2 separate regions of the Homo sapiens genome follow, and region 2 is linked to region 1. The links come from fine-mapping of genetic effects on gene expression. Tissue or cell type: whole blood. Region 1 holds a variant in brackets; the other region holds the start of a gene. All regions are shown on one strand. Distances are from middle to middle.

Region 1 (11,231 bases):
AGAGAGCTACCTCTTGAAAAATAAGTTCCTTCAGCCTTTACTTTCAGGCCGTGTGTCTCTGTCTGTAAGGTCCAGGAAAGAGCATTATCAATCTGGTGACTTTGGCTAACTGAAATGCTAAAGTAAACTTTCTGAGAATTGTTCCAATCTATCACTGTACAAATGATTTGGAAGATGGTCAAACAGTCTAAATCCCATTTGTTGCAGCCAATTCAGTCAATAAATGCTTGCTGAACTGCATGTTATAGTCAATATAAGCAGGCATTGAACAACTCTAACTTCAAAAGCAGGTCCAAAAAAGGAGATAATCATCTGTAAAGCGCTCCAAAGTCAGGCAGTTATGGTCATAGCTAAAGTGAGACCCTGCTGACACAAACCCTGTTCATCTCCAGCAAAGTTTGCTTTTGCCTAGAATGTCTTTCCATATCCTTACTGCCCCCTGCTTCTTCCCCATGAAGGCAGCTTGATATAGTGGAGACAGGGAAGCCTGAGTTCAAAGCCTAACTCTGACATTGACTAGCTATGTGACTTTAGATGATTCATTTGGTCTCTCTGAGCCTCAATTTCCCCATCTGCAAAATGGAAATAATCATAGCTAGATCACAAGGTTTCACTGAGGGTTAAGCCTGAAGTTCCTGGCTCTGATTAATATTAATTCATTCTCTTACCCCCTTCTCTGCCTTGATAAATTCAACTTATTCTTCTAGGCCCACTAAAAATGTCACCTCCTTTGTGACACCTTCCTTCAACCTCTCTACAGATATAGTTAATTGTGCCTTCCTCTGCACATTCATAGCACTTGGATCAGATCCATACTACTAGACTACTTACTTACCACTAGACTACTTACCACATTACATGATTTTCATATCTGTCTCAATAGAGTCAAGGCTCTTTGAGGCCATGGCCTATATTGTATTCATTTTTATATGCCACAGTATCTTGTAACTGTGCCAGTGCTCACATATAATAGATACTCAGTAAATATTTGCCAATGAGTGTTCAGGTATAAGCAAAGAAATAATACCAGTTTGATATTTCAAGTAAGTCTGGTGGTATGACCTAGTTAAGTGTCTCACTTTGAGGTTTTGGTTTGCTTTTGCATCATTCATCTATAGAGTTGTCTAAGAGGGTAAAGAGACCTGTTGGCAAGAGAAGAAACAATGTGTCTACTTTATTTAGATTTTTAAAAGACCTTTGACAACTAGGCATAATTCCAAGGAAAACTTTGCATGTAGGCAGAAAACTGCCTCCACAGCCACTCCACCTCCTCATGCTGAAATCCTACCCTTTCCCATGCTGTCTTTGGTATCACTTCCCGCAGGAAGCCTTTCCTGATTCCCCCTACCTCATGGGGTTCCACGCTGCTCTGGATGGCAGGTGCATTTTGCCTGTCCTCTTTTGTGGCACATCGAATAGTTTGTTTTTCATATATAGAGTTCCTTGAATATGTGTCTAATCCCCCTACCAGGCAAAGAACAAGAGAGAAGAAGTGGGTCTTACCTCTAGCATCCCTGCAGCATCTAGTATGAGACTGTATACATAGTAGGTATGTAATCTACCATTGTAATCAATGGATTGAATATATAAACGAGTGCCCGCTGAGTGAGAGACACTGCATGTAAAAGCCCTGCTAGAATGGTCAAAGGTGAATCTCCCAGGAATGTTGACATCAGAGAAGGGGAAGAGGAAACAAAGGCAACCAGCTTTTATTGAGTATGTGCTCTTTAAGCTCTTTCATATGCAGGAAGAAAAATCGATTTGGGTGTCTATTACGTGCTAGGCTCTGTGTTAAGCATTTGGTCATACATTGTCTCATCTGGTCTCCTGACAAGAACCCTAAGGGACAGTCTTATTCTCCCCTTCATCACTTTTATCCTTTCCATATATATATATGTGTGCATGTGTGTGTGTGTGTATATATATATATATATATATATATATGTGTGTGTGTATATATATATACACACACATACACACACAACACACATATATATGTGTGTGTGTGAGTGTGTGTCGAAAGGGTCTGATATAATAGATATATACAATATCAACATATATAGATAGATATCAACATATATATGTGAGTGTGTATATATATATGTGTGTGTGTATCCTTCTATGATATCAACCCCTTTCAAGGGTCTGATTATATAGATGTATATTTCAACATATATATATATCAACATATATACACATATATCAACATGTATATATGTATGTATATCTTTATATTATATCAGACCCACAGCCAAGGAAAAGGTACAGTTCCTGATCATAAGAGGTTCACCAGATGAGTGAGAAAGACATTCATGTAAACAGACTATACAGAACAATAAGAAATCACAATACAGAACAATAAGAAATATTTTGTAAAAGAACTTTGAGAAAGTTTCATACTTAAAGATTTTTTAAGCCTACTATGTTTGTTATCAAGACAACACTTACAAGTGCAGTCATGACTTCTGTAATCCAATCTGTTCTCCATGTCCTTTATTCTCAGCTGATGGCTTAATCTGCTCACTGGAATGATAAAGACCATCCTGTATGAGCAATCTGGCTGCTGCAAGTCACCTTTAAAGTTAGGCCTGAGAGGCCGGGGGCGGTGGCTCAGGCCTGTAATCCCAGCACTTTGGGAGGCCGAGACGGGTGGATCACGAGGTCAGGAGATGGAGACCATCCTGGCTAACACGGTGAAACTCTGTCTCTACTAAAAACACAAAAAAATTAGCCAGGTGTGGTGGCGGGCACCTGTAGTCCCAGCTACTCGGGAGGCTGAGGCAGGAGAATGGCATGAACCCGGGAGGCGGAGCTTGCAGTGAGCTGAGATCGCGCCACTGCACTCCAGCCTGGGCAACAGAGCGAGACTCCGTCTCAAAAAAAAAAAAATAGCTAGGCCTGAGATAACCTGGGGATTACAAACTCAAAGCCCACCCTGGCTAAGCAGGCAGAGTGTGAGTGCATCTGCATACACGGTGTGAGGGGTGGGTGTGTGGTTGATTAGAGAGCAAACAGTCCATCTAAAGGGTGCAGTAGCTACTCCGCTCCAGCTGACCCACATGAACTAATGCAGGCCTAGTGTTGCCAGAGCGTCTGGATTTTTCAAGAGAAACCAGAAATGTGAGTTTGTAAATTGTAAAATCTCCTGGTTTTTCATTGTTGACTCAAAATGTTTGGAATGTTGTATAGGCCAAATAAAACACAAACACCATTTTGTGCTCTTTGATACAATAAAAACAACACAAAAAATTAACTATCATGGACTTGACCTCAACATACTGTACCTTGCTGAATCTCTCCTGGACTCTGCATATGAAAGCACTGCCATCATCACTCCCTGCTATCCACATCCTTCACCCTGGAACCAGTGACTTCCTTTAAGACAAATCCAGGGCCTTTTCTCCATTCTTATAAGCCCCGACCACTGCAGCACTTAGCCAATATTGCTGTAAGACCCCAGTTACTACTTGGACCAAGACAACAGGAACAAGTTTGGATCTCCATCCCCACTGCTACTGCCTTATAGCCAATCATCTTGCCATCTCCTGGATAGAAACTGTGGGTTTCTGTCACATTTCCTGACTGTGTTCGATGCATTGTGCTTGAGCATCTTGAGTCCTCTTTTAATACCTTATTCTCAAAAACACAAACCTGATCATGTTGATTCCCTATTTAAAACTCTCCACTAGTTTCCCACTCTCTTCCAGCAGGATGTCCAAGGCTCTTCATGCCCCAGCCCCTTCTTGTTCCTTCAGTCTCATCTCCCATCACTCCACACCTTCCTTAATCCCTACTTTTGACTTAGCCAAGCTATTAAAGCTCCCTGTAAATGCTACGCCCTTCAGTGCCCCAATACCTTGGCAAATAATGCTGCCTTTGCCTAGAAAATCTTTCTCCTAGCCCCCTTCTCCAGGGAAACTCCAACTACTCCTTTGACCTCAACTCAGATTCAGCTTCCCTGGGACCAGCCCCATCAATATACCCAACTATGTTGTACTCTCCTATGGCCCTCTATGAAATGATCAGAGCACTTATCTCACTACTATAATTGTTTGGCTCTTCTGCTAAACTATAAAGGCCTAAAAGATGAGAACTTTTAAAAAAATCTCTGTATTCCCACTCTCCAGCATAGTGCGTGGCACATGGCCGACACAATAAATGTTTGCTGAATGACTGTGAATTTCTTGTATTAATTAACGAGTGTCTTTATACCAAAAAAAGACCCATCTCAGTGCAGCTTAGCATGAGACAAAAACAGCAGGGAACACACAGAAGAGAACATGTAGGACTTAGACAAAGAGAAAAAGATAGAAATCCAGAATACACCAGAACAGCAACAATTTCCTAATCACAAAAGATAGGGGTCTTCCCCAATTCCTTACTGAAGAGGAAATTGAAAATAACATTAGAACTTGGCAGGGCACAGTGGCTCATGCCTGCAATCCCAACACTTCGGGAAGCTGAAATGGGAGTATCACTTGAGCCCAGGAGCTCAAAAACAGCCTGGGTAATATAGTGAAACCTAGTCTCCACAAAAATTAAAAGAAAAAAAATTTAGCCAAGCATGGTGGCACATGCCTATAGTCCCAGCTACTTGGGAGGCTGAGGTGGGAGGATCACTTGAGCCTGAGAGGCGGAGGTTGCAGTGAACTAAGCTTGCACCACTGCACTCCAGCCTGGGCAACAGAGCGAGAACTTGTGTCAAAAAAAAAAAAATTAAAACCTGCCAATATAGGATCTGTGGTTTGTTGTAGATAATTATGTTATGTTGTGAGTTGGGAGGATCGCTTGCAGCCTAAGAGTTATGTTGCCTGCATTGAGTCATTTTTAGCTAAGTCTTTTTGTTGTGTTAAAGTACTGTTAGCTGAACTGTATGGACTCCACCTGGCAAATGCAGTTAAAGTTCTGATGCCCAGAGGGGGAAGACCAGGAAAGGAGCAGATTTTCCCAGATGGGACCTTGACATGGCTTATGTTTCTGCTTGGGAGTGCTACCAGGACCACATTCGCAGCCGCTCTCACATTTGCTCCTCACAGCTGCACTGAGCACCAAGCCGAGGAGGTATTATTATCCCCATTTCAGAAATGAGGAAACGAAAACTGCAAGATTAAATAAGTTGATTTTTGTTCCTCCTGCCTGGGGCCCCCAAGATAACAGCAGCAGCTTCACCAATATTCCTGCACCTGCCTTAGTCCAGTCCCTCCTATGGTAAACCCCAAATTTTGGAGCTAAGAGGCTTCCGTAATGATCTGCCTCAAGCCTCCGTGTTTCACAGTGAACTCATGTTTTTAGCACTTTCACCAACCTGGGGGAGGAAAAGCAAAGGGAGACTGGCCAGAAACCAGCTCCTTAAATCCCTCGGTTTCCCCAGCAGGGGCCCAGGCTGCATCATGTGCTCTTGCCAGTCACTGAGATTTTCCTCTGCAGTTGCTGGTATCCATATGCTCCACTTGTGGCCTTAGCTCATCTCTGCTGCTGTGGCCCCTAGCCTCAATGTATTCAAATAACAGAAACTCAGCAGCAGAGCCGTGATGTGACTTGCCCTATGAATCCAGGGAAGGGAGGAGCAGATACTGGACTTGACATCAGTTTTTCTGACTGCCAGTGAAGAGCTCTGTTTACCACACCATGCTGTCTTTTAAAAGGCAACAGAAGCTGGGGCATGTCAAACAGTATCGTATCACATGAAGAGCTTTGCTGCTGCTGCTGCTGCTGCTGCTTTGAATATCAAATATTATAGCCACCCCTTATCAAAACGCTAAAATGGAATTTCAACATCTTTTGAGCATGGAGAAATTTTTAATCAAAAAAGACTCTACAAAAAGGAAATTAAAAACACAAACAGACACCCAAAGAGGAAAACTAGAGGCGATGTG[T/C]TGCTATAGAAAGAAGGTGTTAGACAAACCACAAAAATGTATCAGCAAAACCACTTCTCTTAATTCTAGCTCCAGGAACCATTTGCAACAGAAACAATGCACATGCTGCTCCTGCAGAGAAGCCGGGTGAGCAGTCAGCCCAGCCCACAGAAAGAGTGACCAAAAAGTCACAAGCTATTAACTTGAAAAGAACTGAGGACTACAAGCTATAAGCAGAAAGTGACAGAGCCCTCAGTCAATCTGCAGAGATTAACTGCATGCTCATTAATTTCTCTTCAGTATAGTCCAATAAGCATGGTCCAGTGTTTTAAAGTAGATCAAGACAGTGGCTCCTCACCCTGCAATGCTGCAGAGACCAGGAGGCAGGTCAGTGTCTCAGGGAGAGAAGGTAGTGCTGTCAGTGAGTTCCCCAAAACACCCCAAGATTGGGTGTGTGTGTGTGTGCGTATTTACACACAATCATCTATGGGCATTATAACTACAAGATATCCATTCCATAGCCCTATAGGGCCTAGCTCACAGGAATCACTAAATTAAATTGACCCAATATTAATAATAGCCAATAATTATTGAGCATTTTAATGTATTATCTCCTTTAATCCTCTCAATAACCTTGTGAAGTATGCACTTTCATTGTACTCGTTTTACTGCTTACACAGAAAGGTGAAGGGGGCCAGGTGCAGGGCTCACACCTGTAGTTCCAGAACTTTGGGAGGCTGAGTTGGGAGGATTGCTTGGAGCCTAGGAGTTAGAGACCAGCTTGGGCAACGTGGAAAAACCCTGTTTCTACCAAAAAAGTATTAAAATATTAGCCAGGTGTGATGGGGTGAGCCTGTAGTCCCAGCTACCCAGGAGGCTGAGATGGAAGATCACCTGAGCCCAAGGCTGCAGTGAGCCATAATAGCACATCTGCACCCCAGCCTGGGCAACAGAGTGGGATCCTGTCTCAAAAAAGAAAGAGAGAGAGAGAGAGAGAGGGAGGGAGGGAGGGAGGGAGAGAGAGAGAGTTCTTCTTGGAGCTTTCTCTGTGCTGATGCCTACTTTCAGGTTTCAGACTGAGTTCTTCTTGGAGCTTTCTCTGTGCTGATGCCTACTTTCACGTTTCAGGCTGTGTTGTGTTTAGGCTGGGGAATATCTTGGAGATGGAGGGGTGGGTAGATTGGGGGGTGGGAGTAAACTCACCATCGATTTGGTAATATTTGAATTCAGGTTTTCTTCCCCAAACGGCCTGCTACTATCTACTTTTCAGCATCTTCAAATAGCTGCCCCATGAATTCTGTCCAGTAGGAAATGGTGGGTGGAAGCATGCTTACTCCATCTTGCCTGGAGCTGAGGGCCCTTTATTTCTTCCTTGGAGATCCAGTTGTTGAACACTTATCAACACACTACAGGCTGATTGTACCAAGTGTTGGTATAAGCAAGGAGACTCCTTATGCAATCTTTCACATTACATTCAGGCAGGTCTACCATTTTCTATCTGTGCCTCTGAACAATTAGTTGCCACACCACCCTGGGCCTCAGTATCCTCATTTGTAACTTGAGAATAACCCCGTCTTTATGGCCAGGCGCAGTGGATCACGCCTGTAATCCCAGCACTTTGGGAGGCTGAGGCGGGCGGATCACGAGGTCAGGAGATCCGGACCATCCTGGCTAACACGGTGAAACCCCATCTCTACTAAAAATACAAAAAAATTAGCCAGGCGTGGTGGCGGGCGCCTATAGACCCAGCTACTCGGGAGGCTGAAGCAGGAGAATGGCGTGAACCCAGGAGGCGGAGCTTGCAGTGAGTCGAGATCGCGCCACTGCACTCCAGCCTGGGAGACAGAGTGAGACTCCGTCTCAAAAAACAAAAAAATGCTCTTCTATGCAATTGTAAACATTCTTGCAATAATTGAAAACATAGAAAATCTCTAAAAGAAATAGAAGATATAAAAGAGAAGTAAACGTAAAATTTATTTATTGATTTGTTTCTTTTTGAGACAGAGTCTTCCTCTGTTGCCCAGACTGGAGTGCAGTAATGCGATCTCACAGTGGCTCACTGCAACCTTCACTTCCCAGCCTCAAGAAATTCTCCTGCCTCAGCCTCCCCAGGCACGCACCACCAGGTCCAGCTAATTTTTTCGTATTTTTAGTAGAGACGGTGTTTCACCATGTTGGCCAGGATGGTCTCGAACCCCTGACCTCAAGTGATCCGCCTGCCTTGGCCTCCCAAAGTGCCTCACAGGCGTGAGCCACCACACCCAGCCCAAATGTAAAATTTAGAAATGGAAAACACAATAACAAAAATTTGAAACTCACTCGAAGGGATCAATAGCAGATTGGAGATGACAGAGGAAAGAGCCATTGAACTGAAAGATGAATGAAAAGAAATTATCCAATTGAACAAGAGAAAGAAAGAGATTTTTTTAAAACATATCTGATTTGTAGTGTTTGCTGATTTCTATACTGAAAATATTTCCACCATGGCCCATGTCAAGGTACCAACTACACATTAGTGAATGCATAGTCAGGAAGAGGTGCACACAACTGGCTGTTATCCATAAATATTGCTCACTCCTCAGGCAAAACCAGCAGTACTGTGGGCTATTGAGTCTCAACCTTCTGACCACACACACCCTGAGGCTGTTGATATCCTTTTTAGGCATTCTCAACTCCCTCTGAGCCGTCCCTGGTGTTCTCCTCAACCTGATTTCAAATGGATAAAAACGTGCAGAAGGCATACAGTAGGATTGCCAGGGCCATCCCCTCCATCTCTAGAGGAAGTCTGTATGTGTAAGACAACATTTCTCCAACAAGGAAATGAGCTAAATGACTTCAGCTAAAACCAACAGTATATTTCTCAAATTAGGAGCCTGATGTCTGACACAGATAAAATGTGGAAAACATAACCTAGATGAGCAAGTACAGGGTGGGCACACACCCTATATATGGAATGGCAAAGCTGGGCTTATAATTGATCCTCAGGTCTGTCTTGTCATTCTGGAGCTTTGTACCAAAAGCCGCTGTAGCATTCCAAATACAACCCCATGTTAAAATTACTCAGCACCCTCAAGAAAGGCTGAAAAACACGGTAGGCTGGAAGTTTCAGTGACAGGGATGCTATTCTGATTAAGAGTCAGTTGTTTGTCAACAAGCAAAGTTTCAGGGTAGGGACGGTTCTGAAATTCTTATACAGGGCTCCATGACATCAAAGATCCAAAGATCATAAGCCCCTGCAATGGCTTATGAGTATTAAATCCTCAAAGCCACAAATATCCCAGAAAGTTCCTCTCCAACCTAACCATCTCACTTGTACACAACACCCAAAGGTCCAGAGTGAACGAACGACTTTCTCAAGGTCATAAAACTAATGAGCCATAACAAAAAATGCAGTCTTCTGATTCCCAGTCCCGTGTTTTTTTCCTGACATCACACTTCCTCTTACACTTCCTTCCCTGAACAAGATTTATCTGGCTAATGGTAATAGAGATGAAAAAGTATTTGTGTGGTTTAGAGGAGAAACAAAAAAAACTAATGGGCCAGTCACAGTTGACTCTGATAGCATCAAGGAGGAGGTCAAGCTAGTGATATTGTTGTTGTGTAAGGTAGAAAATGGAAACGCATTCTGAATCGAGGAATTTGGATAGTCCCCTCTAAGAAGTTAGCAGGAACACTGTTTTGAGAAGTGCTCAGGGTGCAGCTGCAGTGTTATTACAGAGCTGTTGGGAAAGCCCAGTGCCCAAGGTGGTAAATGTATTCTAGGTGCTCCCTGCTACCACCCCGCCTCTGTAGCATACACTGCCAAGTCTGGTCAATTGTTTGACAAGGCAGCTGTGTGCATGCCCGTTAATTACACTGTGGAGCACCAAAGTGCAGTGTCAGGCAGCTGCCTAGAATATCAAAAGGCTGCTCGTGGGACAGGCCAGCTATAAGGGCTCTCTTCAGAGAAGTCCATACAGCAGCTGACTCTCCCTCCCCATCTCCCCCTGCCCTCGCCTACGCAGCCCCCTTTAAAGTCTCATTATGAAGGTTGGAATTCTATATTTTCACAGAGTTACTTTAGAATCCATAATGGAACAAGTGTTGTTGATCTTTCTGACATGCCTGAACGAGATGAATGTGAATACTATCTTACATTTCTGCCTCTCCTAATGGTAATATTTCCCTTGAAACCAATGTATCCTTTGCAATATGTTTACCCCATCTGATTAGAATTACTTTCAACTAATTCTATGCTTCCAAAATAATGGCAGCTAACACTTACATGGAGCTCCATATGTGCCAGGCACTTTATATAAAGTAATTTATTTACTCCTCACAATAACCCCAGGTAGATGTTATTAGTATCCCCATTTTATAGATGAGGAAACTGAGACTTAGAGGTTAAGTAATTTGTCCATATCACACGGCCAGTACACAGCAGAGCTGGTATTGAAACCTAGGCATGTGCCTCCTCCATCTCCATGTTTTGTTTTTTCTTTTTTTCGGAGTCTCGCTCTGTCACCAGGCTGGAGTGCAGTGGCACGATCTCAGCTCACTGCAACCACCGACTCCCTGGTTCAAGTGATTCTCCTGCCTCAGCCTACCGAGTAGCTGGGATTACAGGCACATGCCATCGCGCCCAGCTAATTTTTGTATTTTTAGTAGAGACAGGGTTTCACCATGTTGGCCAGGATGGTCTCCATCTCCTGACCTCATGATCCACCCAACTCAGCCTCCCAAAGTGCTGGGATTACAGGCATGAGCCACCATGCCCGGCCTCCTCCATGCTCTTAACCACTACAATGATACTGCCTCAACCAAAGCTAATGGTGCAGGCCCATCAGCCAACATTAATCTAGCTTCTATAATGTGCATATGTTTGATATTTTGTTCTACTTGCCGCCTTTAGAGTCAAGTCAATTTTCTCTACCTGTTTTTCCACAAATACAAGGAGGGAAAATTCAATGCCCTGGGGTGACACTGGGTGATCAAAGTTGACTGGGGTGATCAAAGAAGGCTTCATGGAAGAGGCGGATCTTGAGTTGGACCTTGAAAGTTTCAAGTCTGCCTATCAGAGGTTAAAGGAGTTAGAGAGGAGAGGTTATATCTGGCAAAGGGACCAATGTGAGCAAATTCACACAGGTAGGAATGTACATAGGAAATAAGTTAAACTGTGAGGCTGAGGTACTGCTGGTGTGCCTGGATCACAAAGAGATTTAGCTCCAATGTGAAAGATGGACTGATAGACTGGTATATGGATAAGGAGAAGGAGGAAGAAAGGAAAAAGTTGAAGTGTATGTATGTGTTTGTGTGTGTTTACATGTGTGTGTACCTGTGTATGTGTGTGTATATGTGTGTACATGCGTGTATGTGTATGTGTGTATATGGGGGGTG
Region 2 (11,231 bases), 95 kb before region 1:
CACCTGTAGTCCCAGCTACTCGGGAGGCTGAGGTAGGAGAACCGCTTGAACCCAGGAGGCGGAGGTTGCAGTGAGCCGGGATCATGCCACTGCACTCCAGCCTGAACGATAGAGTGAGAGAGCGAGACTCCGTCTAAAAAAAAGAAAAAGAAAAAGAGAAAAGAAAAAGTGGGCCTAGCTAATTCATGTAATCTTTGCAAGTACCATAAGAGGCAAGTTCTATTACCCCTTTTTTACATATGAGATAACTGAGGTACAGGGAGGTTTACTGACTCACCCAGTGTCTCACAACTATTAAGTCTCCTAGCTGGAATTGAAACCTAGGTGGCCTAGCTCCAGAGCTTGAGCTCTTAACAAGTATGCTCTACAACCTCTCTCAGAAACCACTTCGGAACACCAAACACGTGAAAAGTAAAACAGTATTAAATGATCTAACATCAAAAAATTAATAGGAGAAACATCACAAGACAGTATTTATTCATTATTCAATAACTATTTATAAAGTGCATACCATGTGCTGGGTGCTCAGAATACAACAATGAGCAAACCGGATGAGGTCTAGGTCGCCTTCATGAAGCCAGAGGCAAGTGGGGAGATGGCCAGGCATCAAATAAGCATAATTATGACACAACAGGGCAAGTGTGTGACTGCTGTTCACCTTCAGAGGGGGAGATCTAGTTCAATGGGGAATAGTGTAATAGGACCTGGAATTTGAAATGACAAAAAAGAAAGGCATGGCATCCATTTGACAAGCACCCACTGTGCACGTACTCTATGCCAGGAATAATGCTAAGCACAAAAGTTCCAAACTGGGGAAAATCAGTTTAAACCAATAGAGATTTGTGAAAGGGAATAATAAGGACATATGGGAAAGTAGGCTGGGATCAAATCAAGTTGACCCTGCAGGCACTGATGAAGGTTATTTTGCAGGTTATTCCCCCACAATATTAGGATTTACTCCTATGGAATGTCAATAATCATCTGCATTCCTATTTGGGACCAACTAGACCTCAAAGCTGGATTGCTTTCAAGGAAGGGCTTAGGGCAATAAATTCATTTAAGCCTCAGGAAACACAGTAACCCTAATCTCTCAAGGAATAAAGGTATGGCCATTTGAAAATGTTGGAGAGGCAACAGGTAAAAGAAAATGATAAGCCCTTCTTAAAATTCCAAAGGCCCTTTCTAAAACCTAGGTTATTCCTTTATACAAAATAAAATTTCCAACCTTCCAAAGGAAACATATTTCCATGAGAAAATAAGATATCATTCTTTGAAAAATAAATTCTTAAGTTGAACAATGATCTGATTTTTAATAAAGTTGGTGACAACTTACCTTGTAGCACAAGTCACAATGTGACAGTGGAAAGTAAACTGCCTTTTAACATACTCACCTCAGGGTTCCCATTCCCCCATCCCCTTACCTAAACAGAGTAGAGGAACCGAATTACATGATTATTTAGCATACTGATCATAGAGTTTTTTTTATTCTCAGGTATTAATATAAATGACTGAATGAGTAGACATTCTATTTATCCTCTGCAAAACATTTTTTTTTAAATTTCCCTGGATAATTTTTTTAAGCCAATGACCTTCCCCAGGAAAGACTCTTCAGTGGCTTCCTATTGTTCTGAGAATCAAACCCAAATTCTTTCTCAGGACCTCCAAGTCCTATTTATCGGTTATTGAGCTGCTTCTAGGCTCTGTAACATCTTCTTTAATCCGCCATGCTGGCTTGCTTTCTGCTCTTCAAAAACGCCAAGTCTCTTTTTCCCCCCTCAAGGCCTTGGCTCTTACTCTTCTCTCTGCAAGAATGTTATCTCGGGAATGTTCTCCCAGATCCTGACAAGGTAGGCCTATTCTCTCTTCTCTTTCAGGTCTCTGCTCAATCATCTTCTCTGAAAGGCCTTTTCTGACTTCCCACACTAAAGTAGGCCCTTCCTAGCTATCTGTATCATATTCCCCTACTTATTTTCATTGCTCTTACTACAGTCTATAAGGATCTTCTTCATTTGTTTGCTCGTTTATTGTCTGTATTCTCTGGTAGAATATAAGCACTGTGATACTCCACAAGAGCAAAGATCATGCCTTATAAGGTTTATCATTGTGCCTAACACAGGGCCTTGGCACACAAGTACCCAGTAGATTTTGTAAAATGAATTAGTAAATGAATGAATGATACATAAAAACCTGATTGTTATGAATATCAGTAACTTGAGAAAGCCATTTTTATAATTTTGAGATATTTTCTCTAGGGCTATTCATTTCTCTACAGTCTTTCCACATTTTCTGAAATAATTCCTGGAAATTTGTTGTATTATTTCATAGCAATAAAAATACATCGGTTTCAATCAGTGGATTTAAGAAAAAAATATTTTCAAGAGGTTTTAGTGGTTTATCAAACATCAATAAAAATCAAACAATTTGAAAATTGGTCAGTCTCATTTCACTACTGCAAGTCAAATTACATGAAGAAGCATAATTTGAAATGTACATAAAATGAGAAAGAAGATAATCCAATAAGTAAGTGCAGTTACATTTAGTAATATCAGAAATATCCAGTCTGCTAACCTCTAGGTGTACCAGATGGACTATCAAACACATATTGAGTCATATTGAAGATTCAGAGCAAAATGCTTATGGCTAACTCATCCACCTTTATTCTTTTCCTGGCAAATATAAATAGTCTTACTATGCAATCACATTAGCAGCAATCTTAGCTTAGATTTTGTATCAATAATAAGCATGAAAAGAAAAAAGTAAGAAAATAGTATAAACTCTTTTCCTTGAAAAAGTTGTAAGTTTTTATGTATTTTGAGAATAGTTTGCTAAGAAAATTACAGACTTAGAAAGTGGGCCTATTAGAATAAGTACCCTTTCCCTACTACATTCCATTTTTTAATAAACCTCAAGTAAACTCAGGAATTTACCAAATCAATTGGGAAACTACAAATCATCTGCAAGTTATCTAACTAAATTGATAAGCAATAGGCCTTACTTTTCTTGTGAAAACTACTTTCTTCAGAACATCAACTGAGCCTTATATAATCACACTACACTTTTTGAAGTGTGCTTATAAAAATGGCAGATTGAAAACCTTGGGCTTTTTAATAATTGAAGCTCTTATTTATCTGTTTTTTAAATACATCATTTGATGTTGCAGCAGAAACTACTCTCATCTCACTGCCATAAGACGTGCTACCAGGACAGTGAAATTTAGCCATTATCTTCATTCACAACCTGGTTTCTTCTGAGATTGCTGCCAATTAGTGCACACTGTGTCAATGGCAACACTTGGTCATACATCAGGCAAACAACTCTTTTACCGTTAAGTATGAGGATATTAATAAGAACTTGCAGTTAAGGGAGCTAATATTTTTAGATGTAAAATGATGTCATAAATGCTGAATTATTTCATTTTTCTCAGTTTTTAAATTTGAACACTAGATACAGTCTATTTCCAAAAACACAGCTGCGTATGTCAGCATGTGCTTGTTCACTGGTATTTGCCTCCACTTTGTGCTTCTCCATTCAGCTTTCTTCACACACTAATTGCAGTATGAAAGTGAGCAAATGAACCTCAGTATGGGAGCTAACACCACAACTACATGGGGAGAAAGCGATATCGCTAAGAGTGAGTAGTCTTTTTTGTAACTACGTGGTTTTAAAATATGCTGCTTTTAGAGGGTTTATACAAACATGAAATCTACTGTTAAGAAACTGTGGCTTCAAAAAAAAGAAAGCAGGTGCCCTCCAGAGACAGTTTTAAATCCCAGCGTCTCTTAGTCTCCATTCAATGTGCTTAGTTACCAGCCTATGCTAACTTGAGCGACTTTATCCCAAACCACTAAAGTCCTCTGACTACATTAAAACGATTAACATCCTAGTTTACAATTAGAGAAATGGAGCCAGGCATCACAATTCCCACCAATCCTCTCTCTCAGGCCTGCTCAGCAGCCAGGGAAGAATCAGATTTAGGACCATGTACGAAGATTGCGTACCAACATATATACATACATTTTAAGTGGCTATTGTTCTTGGACTAAGTTAATGAAACCTAGAAAGAAACTTTAAAGTTCCCTAGTTGATATTTACTAAGGCTATTTAGTGAAGGAATGATCTCATCACTTTCAGTAAACTGTAGCCTAGACTATAAGCCTCCAAGAAAATCATTAGTCAACTGTAATTAAACAAACAAACAAACAAAAAAGTCAAAATATTCAGAGCTGAAGACATTCAGAGCTAAGTTAAAAGCTTCGAGGAAGAAGAGGAGTGTGCTCCTGACTTGGGAGCCAGCAGAGGAGCCTCCTAAGTTAGAAGATTCTGAAGGAGAGATGGATTAGGAGGCACAAAGCAGAAACTGTTAGAGGGCAAGAGACAGTAGGGCCGGGGCGGGCAGCGGGACCCCAGACCGTCAGGGCAGCAACAGCGAGGCCCAGAGGAGAAGATCTTGGAGAGATGACAAAGAAGCACAGGAAAGCCGGGTTCTGGGGTCCTAGAAGAACCCAGGCGTCCGACGGAGCCAGAGGGACCGGCAGAAAGGGATGCGAAGGTGTAAGGATGAGGGCGCGCACCAGCACGCGGGAGAAAAAGAGGGGGCGGCGGGCAAAATGAAGCTGTTTCCCTGCTCCTCTGCTCCTCTGCCCCTGGTACAGATCGCAACTCCTCGCCGCGCACCGCGCAGCGCCGGGTCCGAAGGCAGGGAAGCGGCTGCTGGAGCCCCTGTGACTTCAGGACCCTGCCTCACCTTGCTCGCCGCGTCCTGGCGTCCCGCCGCTTGTCCGCCGGGTGCTGCGCTCCGAGGGCCAAAGAGGGAGTCGCGCGGCGCAGCCGGGGCTCCCTCCTGCTGCGAGGCACCAGCACCCGCACCTTCGCACCCTCTGCTCGCCCCGACCACTTCACCCTGTCCTGGCGCAGGCGGAGAGCACGGACCCTAACCCGAATGCCGCTGCAGTTATTTTCAAAAGTCCCCGTTCCAGGCTTCCCAGGAATAGGAGCTGAGCTACTGCGGCCGCAGCGGCAGAGCCTCCGCCTGACCTCACCAGGGTGTGGGGGGGCTGCTGAGGGAGGGGGGCGGGAACCCAGTTGGGGAGGGAGGGGGCAGTGGGGGGGGGAGCGCGCGGGCGGGGGAAACATGGCGGCGGGGGTGGCCCCGGCGGCGCCTGCGCGGGAGGCAGGGTGGCGGGGAGCCGGGGCTAGGACGGTGTGTGGGGTCCGAACGGAACTCCCAGGCTGTAGCGAAAGCGTGACAGGGCCGGACCCTGAAGCTGAATGACCGCTAAGTGGCCCTCACGCCTCGGAAACCGGGAGGCTCTGGTGTGAGCCCACATGGATTCTAGTGCCGGGAGGCAGAAAAAGTGAAAAGTGTCAAGTATCCAGGGACAACAGTGCAGCCGCCCCGGGTTAGCCACTCCAAGGAGGTCCACCCGTGCATTCTGCCAGCCGTGGCCTCGGCCTCCTCATAGTCACGGCGGGGCCCGAGCAAAGGGTGTGCCCTGGAAGCGGTGCCACCTCACCTCAGTGGGGCCCACGTCTCAAAATAAGCCTGACCCAGGCTCTCACACAAATATCACTCTTCTAGTGGGATAAGCGCTTCATCCCTCCCCCTCCCTGCTGCAGTACACAACATTAAGAAAGAGGAAGGATAAAAACTACAAATAACAGTTTAACATTTTACTGAGCGTCTGCTATGAACCAAGCACTGAAGCATCAACTTACCTAATTCACAGCTACTCTACAAGTTACACACTATTGTCTCCATTTTACAAGTGACAAAACTGAGGTGTATAGGTTAACCAAGTTGCCAGAGGTTACATAAATAGTAAGTGGCAGAGCGGGACTCAGGATCCCAAGCGGTGTGATTCTGGTACCCAGGCTCTTAACCACTATGCAAACTGCTTCCAAACTCTGGTGGGACTGCTCTTCTAAGTCAGAATCTTGATTCTGCTCTATCAGCCTAGCCCCCAAAAAAAACCCCAGTCAAGCCTGTTTTTCCCCTTGCTTGTCTTCTATTCATTCTTTGCCTTCTTGACGGTTACAGCCTGGGGCCACCTTCTTACACCTATTCCTTTGCCCTTTCTACTTATAATTCCAGACTCCTCCTTGGGAAAATAAAGGGAGTTTGCTCTTAGCAACCAGTTTAATCACTATTGTGATTTTTTTTCTTTGGCTGTTTTTTTCTTCTTCTTCTTCTTAAGGAAGTGATGCGGTGAGTGTGGAATCTTTATGTTTTCTAGGATTTCTCCCTCTGGGATCTGAGATCTTCAACATTGCTGACTTTGTATTTCAACTTACATACACTGAAATTCTAGTAGTAGGTTTTAGGTAAATTTGAGAATAATCAGCTACTCAAAAACTTGCTAGAACTAAAGATAATACCACATTGTTGGACTTTACCAAATAATCAAAGAACTCCAAATATACATAGAATTTGCATTATTACCTTTTACGTGCAAGTGTATTGAACCCAATTCCCCTTTGTTAACAGGAATGCTTCCACTGGCTTCTCCACTATGCTTATTCAATAATTATTGTATACCTACCTTACACACTAAATGCTTATTGGGTAGAAAGCACCTTGTACAGAAGTTTACAATCTCACTGAGGTGATATATTCCAAACAATCACTTTTAGCATGTATCAAAAACCTGGCACACAGGTTAAAAAAAAAATAAGTACAAACTGAGCTGGTGTACACTCGAGTCACTGCTTTGTCCTGCCATAAAAAGGTTCAAGTGGGGTTACTTTATAATAAGTTTCTCCCACAGAAATGCCAGTAAAAATGGGATAATCCAGTGTGGGCCAAGCAGCCCTTATCTACACAAAGAGAAAACCCTCATAGCAAGGGTGTTGAGATGGGGGCAACTGCAGGATCTGCATTTGAACTGCCAGTAGCTTGCACAGATTCTCAGTTTAAAAAAAAAGAAAAAAGAAAAAGAACTGGCAATAAGATATTACAAATATGCTTATCCAATAGAAGTCCATTGCTGTTTGGGTTCGGATGCTTTATCTGAATACTTAATCTACTGGATAGAGCACTAGACTCAGAGTCAGAAGACAATTTATGTGCTATGTGACATTAAGTTAGTGCTCTGAGAGTGTTTTCCCAAATTTCCAGTGGGGAGCAAAATAATACTGGTCTGATATGCCCCACAGCATTGTTTTGGGTTTCAAATAAGATAACACATGGGAGAGTATGTTGCATTTGGAGAAAAGGTCTTTAAAGAGGTAATTCAGTTAAAGTAATGTCTCTAAGATGGGCCCGAATCCAATATGACTGGTGTCCTTTTAAGAAGAGTTTAGGACTTAGACATATATGCACATAGAGGAAGGACCATGTGAGGATGCAGTGAGAAGGCAACCACTTGCAAGACAAGATGGGGCTTCAGAAGAAACCAAACTTACCTACACCTTGATCTTCCAGAATTACAAGAAAATAAATTTCTGTTGTTTAAGTTACCCAGTCTATGGTGTTATACTTTGTTATGGCAGGTCTAGCAAACGAACATAATGGGAAGCATTTCAAATGCCAGCTAGAGTATCCGCTGACTTAGTTATTGTTCATTGCTAAAAACACACACATTAATTATCTGTTTCCACGTGTCAGGAGTCCAGGTATGGTTTAGCTTGGAGCACTGCTCAGGGTCTCACAAGGCTGCAATCAAGTTTTTGGCTGGGCTGTGTTCTCATGTGCAACTCAGAATCTTCTTCCAAACTCATTCAGATTGTTGGCCAAATTCAGTTCCTTGCAGTTACAGAATTAAGACCCGTAGCATTTACTGGATCTAGAGGCAGCCCCTCTCCATTAGCAGTTGACAACATGGTTGTTCTACTTAGCCAAGGCCAACAGAAAAACTTCTTTCTCCTCAGGAGGGGTCCAGTGCCTCTTTTAAGGTCTTTTACCAGATTAAGTCAGGCCCACCCAAGATTATCACCCCTTTGATTAACTCAAAAATTAACTGTGTGCCTTGATTACATCTGCAAAATCTCTTCACCTTTGCCACATAATGTAACCTAATCACAAGAGTGATAGCCCAGCATATTCACAGGTCCCAACCATACCTAAGTGGAGAATGTATAACAGAAGACAAGAATCTTAGGACCATCTTAGAATTCTCCCTACCATGCCCCAAAGATTTGACAGCACCAATTAATTATACAATTATAAAAATTAACTAAGAGACCATACAGGCAGATGTGGGCACACACATAACATACATACACACACACACACACACACACACACACACACCAAAGTACACAGAGCTGGTAGCTGATCCCTAATCGGTCTAAAAGCATTTGCAAGCTTGCTGTGTGCCTAATGTGAAACTAAAAGATTTCAACTGCATTAATTCTGACTAAAAAACAAATTGAAAACTATTTAGGATACATTTTGTCTCTCTGGTAAATTTGCATTTCCTCAAAACACTCATCTCATCAATTATTGAATGGAGCCTATTATTGAATGGAATCTATTATAAAAAAAAAAACCCTCACAGGGCTTTGGGTAGCATACACAGAAGGGTCTTGCTTTAGAAGTTAGAGATAAATCTGATTAAAGATGTGTAAGACCTGTCCTGAAAACTTTAGGCTTAAATAAATGTAGAAATATACTGTATTCATAGGGCAGAAGAATTGATATCATTAAGATGTCAATTCACTCCTAATTGATTTATAGTTACAGCACAACCCCGATCAAAGTCCTAGCTGGCTTTTTCTGTAGAAATTGACAAGCTGATTCTAAAGTTCATATGGAAATTGAATAAAATAGCCAAAACAACTTTTACAAAGAGCATTAGGGGGATAATACTACCTGATTTCAATTTTTACTGTAAAGCTACAATATTCAAGACAGTGTGGTATTGATCAATGAAACAGAATAGAGTCCATAAACAGACCCACAACGTATATGGGCAAGTTATTTTCAACAAATATTCAAAAGCAATTCAGCTTTTTGAGGAACCTCCATACTTCTTTCCATAGTGAGAGCACCAGTTTATATTGCCACCAACAGTCTCCACATCCACGTCAATACCTGTTATTCATCCTTTTGACAATAGCCATTCTAACAGCTGTGAGGTGATATTTCACTGTGGTTTTAATTTGCATTTCCCCTGATGATTAGAGATTTTCAACATTTTTTAATATATTTGTTGGGGATTTGTATCTCTTCTTTTGAGAAATGCCTGCTCAGATTCCTTTCCCCTCTCTGGGTATATATTCAAAGGAATTGAAATCAGTATGTTAAAGAGATATCTGCACTCCAGTGTTTATTTCAGCATTATTCATAGTAGTCAAAACGTGGAAGCAATCTAAGAATCCATCAATGAATGAATGGATAAAGAAAATGTAGTACATATACACAATGAAATACTATACAACCTTAAAAAAGAAATTCTGTCATTTGCATCCATGACAACATGGAAAGAATTGGAGGAAATTATGCTAAGTGAAATAAGCCAGACATAGACAATACTGTATGATCTCACTTATATGTGGAATCTAAAAAAGTCAATCTCATAGAAACAGAAAGTAGAAAAATGGTTATCAGAGGCAGGGGAAGGAGGAGGAAGCATGGGGAAAGTGAGGATGTTGATCAAAGGGTCCAAAGTTTCAGTTAGACTGGAGAATAAATTTTAGTGACCTATTGCACAGCATGGTGACCGCAGCTAATAGTGTATATTTCAAAACTGCTAAAATAGATTTTTAGAATTCTCACCACAAAAAAAAGATAAGTTGGTGAGGTGATGGATACGTTATTTATCTTGATTAAATCTTTCTATAATGTATACATAGACGCAAACCTCACATTGTATCCCACAGATATGCACAATTATTATTTGTCCATTTAAAAAATTTAAAGGCAATTCAGTGGAGAAAGGGTAGCTTTTTTCAACAATGGTGCTGGAACAACTGGACATCCATGTGAACTAAGATCCATACCTAATACCATCTACAAAAATTAATTCAAAATGCATCATAGACCTAAATGTAAAATCTGGAGCTAGAAAATTTCCAGAACTTTGGCAAAAACCTTTGTGACCTTGGGTTAAGCCAAGATTTTTTAGATATGACACGAAAAGCATGGTCCACAAAAAGACAAATTAAGAAGTTGAACTTGATCAAAATTGAAAAGAAACAACTCTTCTATAAAAGACACTGTTGACAGAATGAAAAAAGAAACTACAGACCGGTAGAAAATATGCAAAAATCATATCTAATATTAAAAAACTTGCATACAGAATAAAGAACCTTCAAATCTCAATAACAAGAATATGAACAACAAATTAAAAAAAAAAGGTAAACTATTTGAACAGACACCACCAAAGAAGTTACATCAAAGAAGCATGGCAAACAAGCACATGAAAAGATTATCAACATCATTAGTCATTAGGGAAATGCAAATCAAAGCCACAATGAGATAACACTACAATGTACTAGAATACCTAGCACTAAAAGGAATAATTATAGTAAGTTTTTGCAAGGAACTACAACTCTGATATGCTGCTACTGTGAATGAAAAATGGTACACTCATTTTCGAAAATAATTTGGCAGTCTTTTAAAAAGTTAAACATACACCTACCATATGATCCGGCCATTCCACTCCTAGGTATTTACTCAAGAGAAATGAAAGCATATGTCCCTACAAAGACTTGTACATTAATATTCATAGCAGATGTATTAGTTATTAACTAAAAATAGAAACAACCCAAAAGTCCATCAACAAGTGAAGTGATAAACCAGTACATCCATACACTGGAATACTACCCAGCCATAAAAAGGAATGAATGTACTACAATATGATATGCATAACAATATGGATGAATCTCAGAATAACTATATCCAAGCGAAAGATGCCACACAAAAAAGTATGCACTGTATTATTCCATTTATATAAAAGTCTATAAAATGAAAATGAATCTGTAGTGATAGAATGCAGATCAGTGTTTGCCTAGGGATGAGATTGGAGGGAGGGCAGAAAGGACAATTGGGTACAAGAGAACTTTTAGGGATGATAAGTATATTCCTTATTGCTTTTATGGTAATGTTTTCACAAAACATGTCAATATTTATCAAATTGTACACTTTAAATATGCACAGTTTATTGTATGTCAGTGATACCTCAATAAAGCTATTAAAATTAGTCATGTGCCTTGACAAACTGCAGTATCTCTAGTTTACTCCCTTTTTGTGAACAAGAATACAAAGACAGGAATACAGTCAAGGCTCAGGA

Evidence for each region.
Region 2: it holds the start of KLHL13, and the variant in region 1 is fine-mapped to the expression of KLHL13 in whole blood (TOPMed, PIP above 0.99). The same link has a PIP of 0.9 or more in blood mononuclear cells.

What each region holds. Positions count from the first base shown.
Region 1 is chrX:118,207,013-118,218,243 of GRCh38, forward strand. No RefSeq gene overlaps it. Among named protein-coding and RNA genes, the nearest start is that of KLHL13, 96 kb to the left of the region's middle. RefSeq lists an enhancer at 4,729-4,798. The variant T/C (reference allele first, on the strand shown) is at 5,877.
Region 2 is chrX:118,111,764-118,122,994 of GRCh38, forward strand. It overlaps KLHL13 (kelch like family member 13), which reads right to left and starts at 5,047. Exons shown (of 8, transcript NM_001168302.2): 1 at 4,745-5,047.